Homo sapiens: one gene and its partners. The protein of the gene in region 3 purifies or fractionates together with the protein of the main gene of each other region. This does not show direct contact. Each region holds a gene or a part of one and is shown on either strand. Other genes may lie near its edges. The genes, in order: MCFD2, FAIM and SEPHS1.

What was found.
Region 1: the proteins of SEPHS1 (region 3) and MCFD2 fractionate together in Homo sapiens (co-fractionation; one large-scale study listed by BioGRID). This does not show direct contact.
Region 2: the proteins of SEPHS1 (region 3) and FAIM fractionate together in Homo sapiens (co-fractionation; one large-scale study listed by BioGRID). This does not show direct contact.

The regions. Positions count from the first base shown.
Region 1 is NC_000002.12:46,905,807-46,909,458, forward strand, and holds part of MCFD2 (multiple coagulation factor deficiency protein 2 isoform A precursor), read right to left. Parts: intron 3,372-3,652; 5' UTR 3,366-3,371; coding exon 3,217-3,365; intron 2,873-3,216; exon of another isoform or gene 2,164-2,872; coding exon 2,004-2,163; exon of another isoform or gene 1,078-2,003; intron 1-1,077. UniProt on the Homo sapiens protein: The MCFD2-LMAN1 complex forms a specific cargo receptor for the ER-to-Golgi transport of selected proteins. Plays a role in the secretion of coagulation factors.
Region 2 is NC_000003.12:138,622,235-138,625,886, reverse strand, and holds part of FAIM (fas apoptotic inhibitory molecule 1), read right to left. Parts: coding exon 3,471-3,652; intron 1-3,470. UniProt on the Homo sapiens protein: Plays a role as an inducible effector molecule that mediates Fas resistance produced by surface Ig engagement in B cells.
Region 3 is NC_000010.11:13,317,201-13,320,852, forward strand, and holds the end of SEPHS1 (selenide, water dikinase 1), read right to left. Parts: intron 2,157-3,652; coding exon 1,942-2,156; 3' UTR 228-1,941; downstream 1-227. UniProt on the Homo sapiens protein: Synthesizes selenophosphate from selenide and ATP.

The DNA of each region.
Region 1 (3,652 bases), on a different chromosome or scaffold from region 3:
AGAGAGAATATGTATTATTGAGTCAATTTATCATAATCCAGTTTAGAAATTACATTTGCCAGTTAAAAGAAGGCCCTTCAAAATAGGCTTTTGCTTATTTGTTTCATTATGGCTCATTCTTCTTTAATTGGAAAAGTGCCAGTCCTCCTGAGGGTCAGCTCTGTGCACAAATTTGCCTGATAAAATAGAAACAGTGACGAATTGGACAACAAGTTGGCATCAAAACAAGAGGAAGAAGGCACTGCCGATGAGCAGAACCTGTTATGATCTTTGAGGAGAAAGTATTTCCCATGCTCCAAGAGCAGGGTTAGTGGGCTGAGGCTGTTCACATCCTTGGCTGGTTCTTCCTTTGCCACATCTCCCACATTCACCATTCCCTCTCCTGTCACCACCACTATCCTCATCTGCCAGGACTGCTGACCCCTAATTCCTCCGCCTAACACTAGTCTCTCCTCATGTCCTTCAGTCTGTCTCCCACAACCAAGGATCTTCCCTAAACAATGCCATTCTCCTGTGCAAAATCATTCATGCTCCCTGCTGCCTTCAAACCTCACCTGCACTCCTAGCAGCGAATGTAATCCCACTCACCTGGCTAACTTTGCCTTGCTTCCTCTCTATAGAGGGCAGTGTGGCAGAAGGGGAATGACATTAAATGTGGAGGCACGAGGATTTTTTTTTTTTTTTTTTTTTTTTTTTTGAGACAGGGTCTGACTCTGTCACCCAGGCTGGAGTCCAGTAGCACGATCACAGCTCACTGCAGCCTCGACCTCCCAGGCTCAGGTGTTCCTCCCCACTACCCTCCCACCCCGTCACCCCAGCAGCTGGGATTACAGGCAAGCATCACTATGTCCAGCTAATTTTTGTAGAGACGGGATATCACCATGCTGCCCAGGTTGGTCTTGAACTCCTGGGCTCAAGCGATCCTCCTGCCTCAACCTCCCAAAGTGCTGGGATAATAGGCATGAGCCACTGTGCTTAGCCTGGCACAAGATCTTGATTTCAGTGTCTTCACCTAGAAAATGGGAGGGTTTTGTTTGTTTTTTGTTTTCTGAGACAGGATCTCGCTCTATTGCCCAGGCTGGAATTCAGTGGCAACATCGCAGCTTGCCACAGCCTCAACCTCTCAGGTTCAAGTGATCCTCCTACTTCAGCATCATGAGTAGCTGGGACTACAGGCATGCACCACTGAAAATGGAAGTATTAACAATGCCTGCCACTGCCTACTCAAGATGTTGCAAAGATCCAACGAGATCTCTAACCTACTTGAAAGGGCTTCAGAAACTTTGGAGCACCATACAGTATCACACAAGCCCTCAATTACTGCCACGTCCCTGAATCCCTTGGTGTCAATTCACCATTAAACAACTTCTCCCTTGCTCTGCAGTTTGAATACGGTCTGTCTTTTAGGCACTGATTCTCATACTCTGGTGTGTAACAGAAATGCCTGTAGCACTTAAAGATACAAATGCCCAGCCCTGGGACTTCTGCCTCAGCAAGTTATCCTTTGCGGGAAGGATCGTTGGACAGAAAGAGGCAGAACACAGAAGAGAAAGAAGCAGCAGCACCTTTTTTTTTCTTTTCTTTTTTTCTCTTTTTGAGACAAGGCCTCACTCTGTTGCCCAGGCTGAAGTGCGGTGGCATGATTATGGCTCACTATAGCCTCGACATCCTGGACTCAAGCAATCCTCCCACCTTAGCCTCCTGAGTACGTAGAACTACGGGCATGCACTACCAGGCCTGGCTAATTTTTTAATTTTTGTTTTGTTTGTTTTGTAGAGACAGGGTCTCACTATATTGCCAAGGCTGGTCTTGAACTCCTGGCTCAAGTGATCCTTCCACTTTGGCCTCCCAAAGTGCTGGGATTACAGATGCGAGCCATCATGCCCAGTGGAGAAGCAGCACTCTTGGCACATAAGGACAACACAAGTCAACAAGACTGGGGACCAAATTAACAAAGGGAAGCCTTTCTGTGATACAGTCCCCCAAGCCACTGCCAGACCTACCTCCTTATGGACATGAGTGATGGCTGTGGAGAGTTCTAAGCCATCAAGCAAATTATTGCCATCATAATCATGCATTTTGAAGTAATGGAGCTGCAATTCTTGTGGCGACATCTCCGCCTCTGGTTTGTTGATGACACCTTCTAGATGCTCCATGATATGCCTAAAAATCAACAGTCAGGTTCAGGCCAATTGACAGATACTGGGATCATGCTGAAATCTTAAGGACTCTGAAAAGTTCAAGATCTTAAACTTCCTCCAGCTCAGAAAAACAAACACCAGCAGTGGCAGACCACACTCAAGGATTACACAGAGATAGACAAGGCCTTGAGAGGAGCAGGAAAAGTCAAATAGACCATCTGTTATGCTGGCAGGATTAGGGTATTCTTTCCTCTTTATTATTAGAATTTTGTTATAACATTTTCAGGCCATCAATTTAAAAATATGTCCTTTAAAACTTTTTTTTTTTTTTGAGACAGGGTCTCACTCTGCCACCCAGGCTGGAGTGCAGGAGCGTGATCTTGGCTCATTGTAGCCTCAACTTCCCAAGCTCAGTTGATTCTCCCACTTCAGCCCCCCAAGTAGCTGGGACCATAGGCATGTACTGCCACATCCAGCTAATTTTTTGCAATTTTTTAGTAGAGACAGGTTTTCCCTATATTGCCTAGGCTGGTCTCGAATTCCTGGGCTCAAGTAATCCACCTGCCTCAGCCTCCCAAAGCACTGGGATTACAGGTGTGAGCCACTGCACCCAGCCTTAAAAACAAAGGATAACCGAGTATAATGCGTGAGGCTAACTGGCCCAAGACAAAAGCTGCAACAAATGATTCAATGTTTGAATGTGTTGATTTAAAAAAGGTCTTGTTATAGTCAAGAAACCTTAGCTATTTTCTGGATTCTGCTACTATGACTGTGTATGTGTACCTGTGTGTCTATTTGTATGTGTGTGTGTCTGTCTGTGGTGAAAAAAAGGAGAGACCGGATTCAGACAAGTAATGTGCCCCATTTGGGCCTAAAGATCTTCCACCTGTGATACAATGATGAAAAAAGAATACCTGACTTATAGGTGGCAATAAGGAATAAGAATCATCCTTGAAGAATGTCAAGGAGCCATAGAAACAGGAAGAAGGAAAGGAGGACTGAGCATGCCCTTGCCGCTGGCTCAGCTGCAGATGATGGGGAGGCCACTGGACCACAGCCCGGGCTGAATACGTACTCTTGGTCGTGCACTGTGTTCTTATCCAGGCCCATGCTGCCGGGTTGGGAGAAGCTGGCTGCAGGCTCCTCAGCCCTGGCGCCTGGGGCACAAAAGGCCCAGAGCAGGCCACACAGGAAGGGGGTTCTGAGCAGGGATCTCATGGTCATCAATATCTGTGAGATGGGAAACACAGAAGAGGAAGGCAGAGCATCAGAGCAAAGGTTTCGTTCAGGGCTTGACATGGTATGATCCTGGGAAACCTGATGAAGCAGTAAGGTTAGGAAGAGAGCTTGTCAAACACGGCCCAATGCCAGCTCTGCTTTGAGACTGTGGGATGACCCTGGGCACTCCAAGTCACTCAAATGGCAGGGGAAGGCTCACGAGGTTTCCTGAAGTGCCTGCAGAGTGCCAAGCAACACGTGAAAGCTTGAAGGGACTGGAAGATTATTCTTGC
Region 2 (3,652 bases), on a different chromosome or scaffold from region 3:
AAAAAAATGCACATGATCTTTGAGGTCAGCTCTCAGCATCACTCTTTACTAGCAGTACCCTTTGGCAAGTCACCACCACTCTGAGCTTCCATTTCCTCAGGGGCAAATGAAGATGATACCACCTTTCCCATAGGCTGTTATAAGGGTTAGAAATAATTATATAAAGTGCCTAGTATAGTATCTGGCACATAATATGACCTTAGTAAATCATAATGTTTTGTTATTCAAAGCTTTTTTGTGGCCTTGCTCTAATTTCTCAATATAAAATTTAGCAAGTCATATAATATTGTTATTTGAAACTTGCCACATAACATACAAGAGTGAATTTTACCAGGAGACTCTAGATAAGCCCATTCTTTGCCCATGAGTAGTAATAATCACCACAAATAATATTTTTAAATTATTATCAATTTTTTTTTTTTTTGAGACAGAGTCTTGCTTGGTCACCCAGGCTGGAGTGCAGTGGCGCAATCTCAGCTCACTGCAACCTCCGCCTCCCAGGCTCAAGCAATTCTCCTGCCTCAGCCTCCCGAGTAGCTGGGATTACAGGTGCCCACCACCACGCCCAGCTAATTTTTGTATTTTTAGTAGAGATGGGGTTTCACCATGTTGGTCAGGCTGGTCTCGAACTCCTGACCTCAAGTGATCCACCTGCCTTGGCCTCCCACAGTGCTGGGATTACAGGTGTGAGCTACCATGCCCAGCCAAATTATTAAAATTTTGAGGCAGGGTCTCACTCTGTCATCCATGCTGGAATGCAGTGGTGCAATTTAGCTCACTGCAACCTTGAACCCCTAGGCTCAAGTGATCCTCTCGCCTCAGCCTCCCAAGTAGTTGGGACTACAGGCATGTGCCACTACACTTAGCTAATTTTTAAATATTTTGAAGAGATGAGGTCTCCCTATGTTGCCCAGGCTGGTCTTGAACTCCTGGGCTCAAGCGATCCTCCCACTTCAGCCTCCCAAAGTGCTGGGATTACAGGTGTGAGCCACTGCACCTGGCTGACAAATAATATTTTTAAAGAATTCACAATGTGAGAAACACTGTTAAGTACTTTACATGTACTAAATCAATTAAACTTCACTCATATCACAACTCTGTGAGGGAGTTACATTATCCCCATTTTACAGATGAGGAAACCAAGGTTCAGAGGTTAAGTAATTTGCCCATCACACAGCTCTGATCCTGGAGCCTGCATTCTTCATAACTAATCTGTAAAATGTAGGCTGTAGTCAGCATAGTCCAAAGTTTGATGGATCTTGGAAGCAGAAGTGCAAGCAATATCAATAACATATGCAATTTTGCCTTTACCTCAGTAAACAACTCTGGTCCCTTATCCCTTCCAAACAGCAAAAGGGACAAGTTGGGGCTGAACTCTGTCTCATTTCCAGGCTCATGAGGGATTGCAAATGGATAAAGAAGAGTAAAGGCAGACAAGGAGTAAAAGCAGAAAAATATATTTTTTAAAGACCCGAGATAATTCACAAGTAGATAAGCAGGCCCCTGGACATTTAAAAGAGAACTAACTGTATGCTAGGCATAGCTCAGGCAGTCTCTTCCATTTCACCTAGGAAAAGTTAATATCAATTGTATTACAAGTTGGCAAAGCAGCTGATTAAGTACCTAAAATTAATTTAAAGGCCTGGTTTCATCATCTGTTAAAGTCCCATATGTTTAAGTGTGTTGACACTAATCATAATCCTTTTAAAAACTAAAATTTCCATTATTAATGAGATCCAGTGGTTCTAAAACTTTATTGCAGGTTGAGTAACTATATTCCTAAACATATCACTATGAAATTTGGAAATATAAGGGATAAGATGAGCTCCCAAAACCTTCTGGAAAGAAAAAAATGAGATTCAGATTGGCACAAAACTTTTCATTTAAAACAATGGAGAATAGAAGCTACTGGAATAAGGGTTTCAAAAATTCTGAGAGAAAGTGAGTTTGAAATTAAAACTCTGTACTGAACAAAACTATCAACTTAGCATGAGGATCAAAGTAATGTTTATTTCTTAGACACCCTTTATCAGGAGATTACCTAAGGAATATATTCCAGTAAACAAAGATGAAAGCAGGAGTTGTGGGGTTCAATAACTGGAAGAACAAAAGGGTTCCATGAAAGAAAGCCTAGGGTGGCCACAAAGCAGCAGACTTGGATACTTAGAACAGGAGGGCAACAGACTTCCAAGAATATTGTTGTTAAGAATGAAAAGAAGGGTGGGCACAGCTGCTCACACCTGTAATCCCAGCACTTTTGGAGGCTGAGGCAGGAGGATCACTTGAGCCCAGGAGCTCTAGATTAGCCTGGCCAACATGGCAAGACCCTGTCTCTACAAAAAATTTTTTTAAAGTTAGCCTGGCATGGTGACATGGACCTGTGGTCCCAGCTACTCGGGAGGCTGAGGCTGGAGGATCACTTGAGCCCAGGAGGACAAGGCTGCAGTGAGCCATGTTCATGCACACCACTGCATTCCAGCCTGGGCGACAAAGTGAGACTCTGTCTCAAAAACATAAAAGAATGAAAAGAATTCCAAGCAATAGAGAACACGAGTAAAACTGCTAAAAGACATAGGAATATGGGCAAAGAAAAGATATATATCTGCTTCCCATAAGAAAAGAGAAACCCAAACAGAAAAGCCTAGAAAAACAAACAAAAAAAACTCTTCAAAAAGTCCTAGACTTTGATAATTTTGATCTGATGCAGTCCTAAGCCTATTGTTATCTAGGAAAATATTGCTTTCTTACTGATAAATCCTAAATTTCCAACTGCCTTTAAGATATATTTATAAAGAGAAATACCAAATAATACCAAAATCTACATCAATATTACTTTTTTTTTTTTTTTTGAGATGGAGTCTTGCTTTTTTTGAGACTGGAATGCAGTGGTGCGATCTCGGCTCATTGCAATCTCCGCCTCCTGGATTCAAGTGATTTCCCCTGCCTCAGCCTCCCGAGTAGCTGGGATTACAGGCATGTGCCACTATGTCCTGCTAATTTTTGTATTTTTAGTAGGGACGGGGTTTCACCATGTTGGCCAGGCTGGTCTCAAACTCCTGACCTCAGGTGATCCACCCGCCTCAGCCTACCAAAGTGCTGGGATTACAAGCATGAGTCACTGCGCCTGGCAATATTACATTTTTTTAAAACCTAAATTTATAATCCTCAAATCCATCACTATAAAACCTGGCTTAAGATATCTTATATATAAAATGGTGGATTAAATGAATGCTTCATTTACTCAGGACACATTAGAAATACACCTGCTGGACAATATACACACCTGCTAGACAATCCCAAGCAGATAGGAAACAAAAAATTTTTTTAATGTTTCTAAACAAATGAAATACACCTGCACTTACACTCCCTCTTCTTTTCAAACCTCCATAGAAGGTCTGAATACAGTTACAGGAATTAAACAGACATTATAAAAAAAAAAAAAAAGTTCTGCGGAAACAGCACTAACTTACCCAAAACAATTCTAAAGTTCTCACCATCCATGTGTAATACCCAAGTATTGGTGGTTTTTGATCTGTCCTCCATATACTTCTTGAGACTTTTCCCATTAATTTCCAGAGTATATTCATAAGCAAAACCACTGATAGCGTCTATATTTATGGTCGCTTTTGTCTTTGCAGCTCCAACATAGAAT
Region 3 (3,652 bases):
CTTCCTCTTGGGATCATAAGACTTACACGGACCTCTAAGTACCCAACATTTTCTCTTTATAAATATCAATCTTCACAAATATTATTTCCTTAAGTACATACTCCACTTAGCTCCCTCCTCTCAATAGGCCTGCCACTGAGGAAAACACCAGCTCTCACGGCACAGGCTACACTGAAGTTCAGTCATCGTTATTTAAAAAAAAAAAAAAAAAAAAGCTCAACAGTAGGTTTATCTCACTAGAGGTTTCCAACACACTTTATTTTGCAGACCACTGGTTTGTAGCTTTTGAGGACCAACATCTCTATCAATTCCTATAAAATGTCCAATCACTTTCAGTTCCGTAGCAGGCTCTTCCATACTGCACACCATGCTTATGGCTGGAGGTCCAGTTACACATGCATGAAGGCTGCCCTGCCCACTGGTTCCTGGAGGAGGGCGCGTCCGAGTTAAAGCCTCTTCCAGGAGCTTGAACTTCCCAGGGGTCATTTCCTTTGGCAAGAAGTCAGTTTACATGTGCAGCTTTGGTGCCTGTGAGCAGAAAGCACCAGAAATGGGCAGGATGTGCTGCTTTTTCTCTCACGAAGATGGGCACTTGAGGATCCAGCGCCCTTGTGCTTAATGACAGGAATCCCTCCTCATTGCTTAGTAGGTTAAAATATAAGGAAGCCTCCACTTTACATAACACAGAGAACACCTTTTTAGATTGCCTATTTATTCTAGAACTACAAAATTTAATTCAAGAAAATATAGGTCCCATGAAAGACTTAAAAGTTTTATAAAACTAAAATCTAGTTTTTCCCGATAAATTGTACTTTAGGCAAAACCCTCCCAACGCTTCTAAAATAATACTAAAAGGGGCATCTGATTATACAAGAGCAATTTAAAAAATTAAATATTTATTTGAATAACAAGTTTAAGTTCGAGCTGCAATGTTGGCAATGCAGGTTTTTAACACAGATCACAAAAAGCGTGCACAAAAAAGTACTGGCGCAAAGGACAAAATAATGCTAAGAATTAGGCCAAACAGCTGCTGATTTTAAGAAAACAAAAGGCCTGAAATCACTGTACAAAATAGAAAATGTATTAAACACTACCATCCACAGAACAGTCTTTACTATTGATTATATTTAAAAATTATTTGTGTAATTATATATTGAATTGTAAATGAGTATTATACATGAACCTCCATTCGGAAGGCAATTCCTTGTAGCACTATAGAACATCTAATAACATTGCAAAAAGTATCCTTTTTTGCTATCGATAAAACAGTTAATGGTATTACTGTAAATATCAGGAAGGCTACAAAAAAAGAAATAAGATTTCTTTTTTGTCTTCAAAGTGTTTTCCATGCAATGAAGCACTTGCTGTGTTGAACTGAATGCACTACTGGAGAATGTTCTGGGTCCGAGATGCTCTTGAGAGACAAGACTAGGCTTTTCAAATCAAACACTCAAAGGAATCATGCAACCCTCTTATGACTGGGATACCGTCATGTGCCACTTACCAATGCTGTCTCTCCAGAAAACCATTCAAGACGCTTAAAAAAAAAAATCAGACTTATATGATAAATATACATAAAATGAAGACACCAACTGCTATTTGACACGACTACGGGTAATGCCTGTGCTATGTGAAAGCACCTTTAAAAAGCCTATGCGGCAAGAGATAAGTGTCTAAAGATTCAAAATGAATCAACAGTATTGGATAACAATATAATTCTCAACTCAGAAGCTGCCTCAAGATTAGGTGCATCTTCAGTTAATGTAACAGGAAAAAAAGGCAATGGATTTTATTTTATTAATTGTATCCACTTACAAACCGACCTAAGGTCACCCCGATGTGTAGACACAATGAGATTTTTGTTGTTTATAGTCTTTAATTGAAGTGATAAGGGAAATAGATCTATTTAAAAACAAAACCAAACAGCTATTTCTGTCTAGATTAAGAGGTGGCCCCGGGTGTGGGATTCACATTTTGAGTGGCCACTTGTGGTGCGACCTCGATGATCCGGGGTTTGTCTATGATTCTGGCTGTGCGGTTGCCCTTCTCTACAATCCCAATAATCCATGCTTGGTGGCCTTCACCATATTTGGGGGACTTTATCTCTGCACAGAACCGAGCTGCTTGCTCACGTGGTAAACAGATCAGAAGGCCGCCTGGCAAAAGAAAACAAGAATGACTGTTAGTGTTGACATGACAGCAGCTTCTCTGCCTCTGCTGCTTCTGCAGAGATCCAACTTCCATCAACAACTTGCTGCCACCTATATGCAAGTAGCTCTTCCCATTCAACTAAGCAGCTTTTTTTTGAGACAGGGTCTCACTCTGTGGCCCAAGCTGGAGTGCAGTGGTACAATCACAGCTCACTGCAGCCTCAATGTCCTGGCTCAGGTGACCCTCCCACTTCAGCTTTCCCAGTAGCTGTGATTACAAGTGTGCACCACCACACCTGGCTAATTTTCTGTAGAGACAAGGTTTCACTGTGTTGTCCAGGCTGGTCTAAAACTCCTGGACTCAAGCAATCCACCTGCCTTGGCCTCCCAAAGTGCTGAGATTACAGGAATGAACCACCACTCCCAGCCTAAGAGGCCTGTTCTATGCTGTAATTAAGCAATTGCTAGTAAACTCCTAACACACACACATATACACTCCAACTTTCAACTGTGAAAATGACCTATTCGTGAACCACATAACACTGTGTAGGGGTAAGGTGTTTGGGGCTTCAATAACCCATGTGGTAGCTATTTTTTCCAAGCTACACTGAAACAAATATTGACAAACAAAAGGGAACTTTTGATTCTCTACATCGACTCTCTCATTTTACCGAGAATGCTTTTTTGTATTTTTAGAAAATTTAAGACTCATGAAACAGTGTATGCCCCAAAGTATCTAGGTTCCAGTCATGACTCTGTCATTATATCCAAAAGACAAACAGTATAAAATACATTAAAATAAACCTTTGTTGCTCTTTCCAGTAAATAGGCCATAAATTTTTTTTTTTTTTGAGACGGAGTCTCGCTGTCTCCCAGGTTGGATTGCAGTGGTGTGATCTCGGCTCACTGCAAGCTCCACCTCCCGGGTTCACACCATTCTCCTGCCTCAGCCTCCTGAGTAGCTGGGACTACAGGCGCCCGCCACCACACCCGGCTAATTTTTTGTATTTTTAGTAGAGACAGGGTTTCACCGTGTTAGCCAGGATGGTCTCGATCTCCTGACCTCGTGATCCACCCGCCTTGGCCTCCCAAAGTGCTGGGATTACAGGCGTGAGCCACTGCACCGGGCCAAAATTTATTTCTCTAAGTAGAAATAAGATGATGAGGAAAAACTGTAGTCTACTTCTACAAAATGTAAAAACCTTGTGGCTGGGCATGGTGGGTCACACGTGTAATCCCAGCACTTTGGGAGGCCGAGGCGGGTGGATCACCTGAGGTCAGGAGGTAGTTCAAGACCAGCCTGGCCAACATGGTAAAACCTCGTCTCTAAATTAGCTGGGCATGATGGCACAGCCCTGTAATCCCAGCTACTCGGGCTGAGGCAAGAGAATCGCTTGAACCGGGGAGGGGGAGGTTGCAGTGAGCTGAGATCGCGCCATTGCACTCCAGCCTGGGTGACAAGAGGAAAACTCCATCATAAAATTAAAAACTTCCTATTTCTG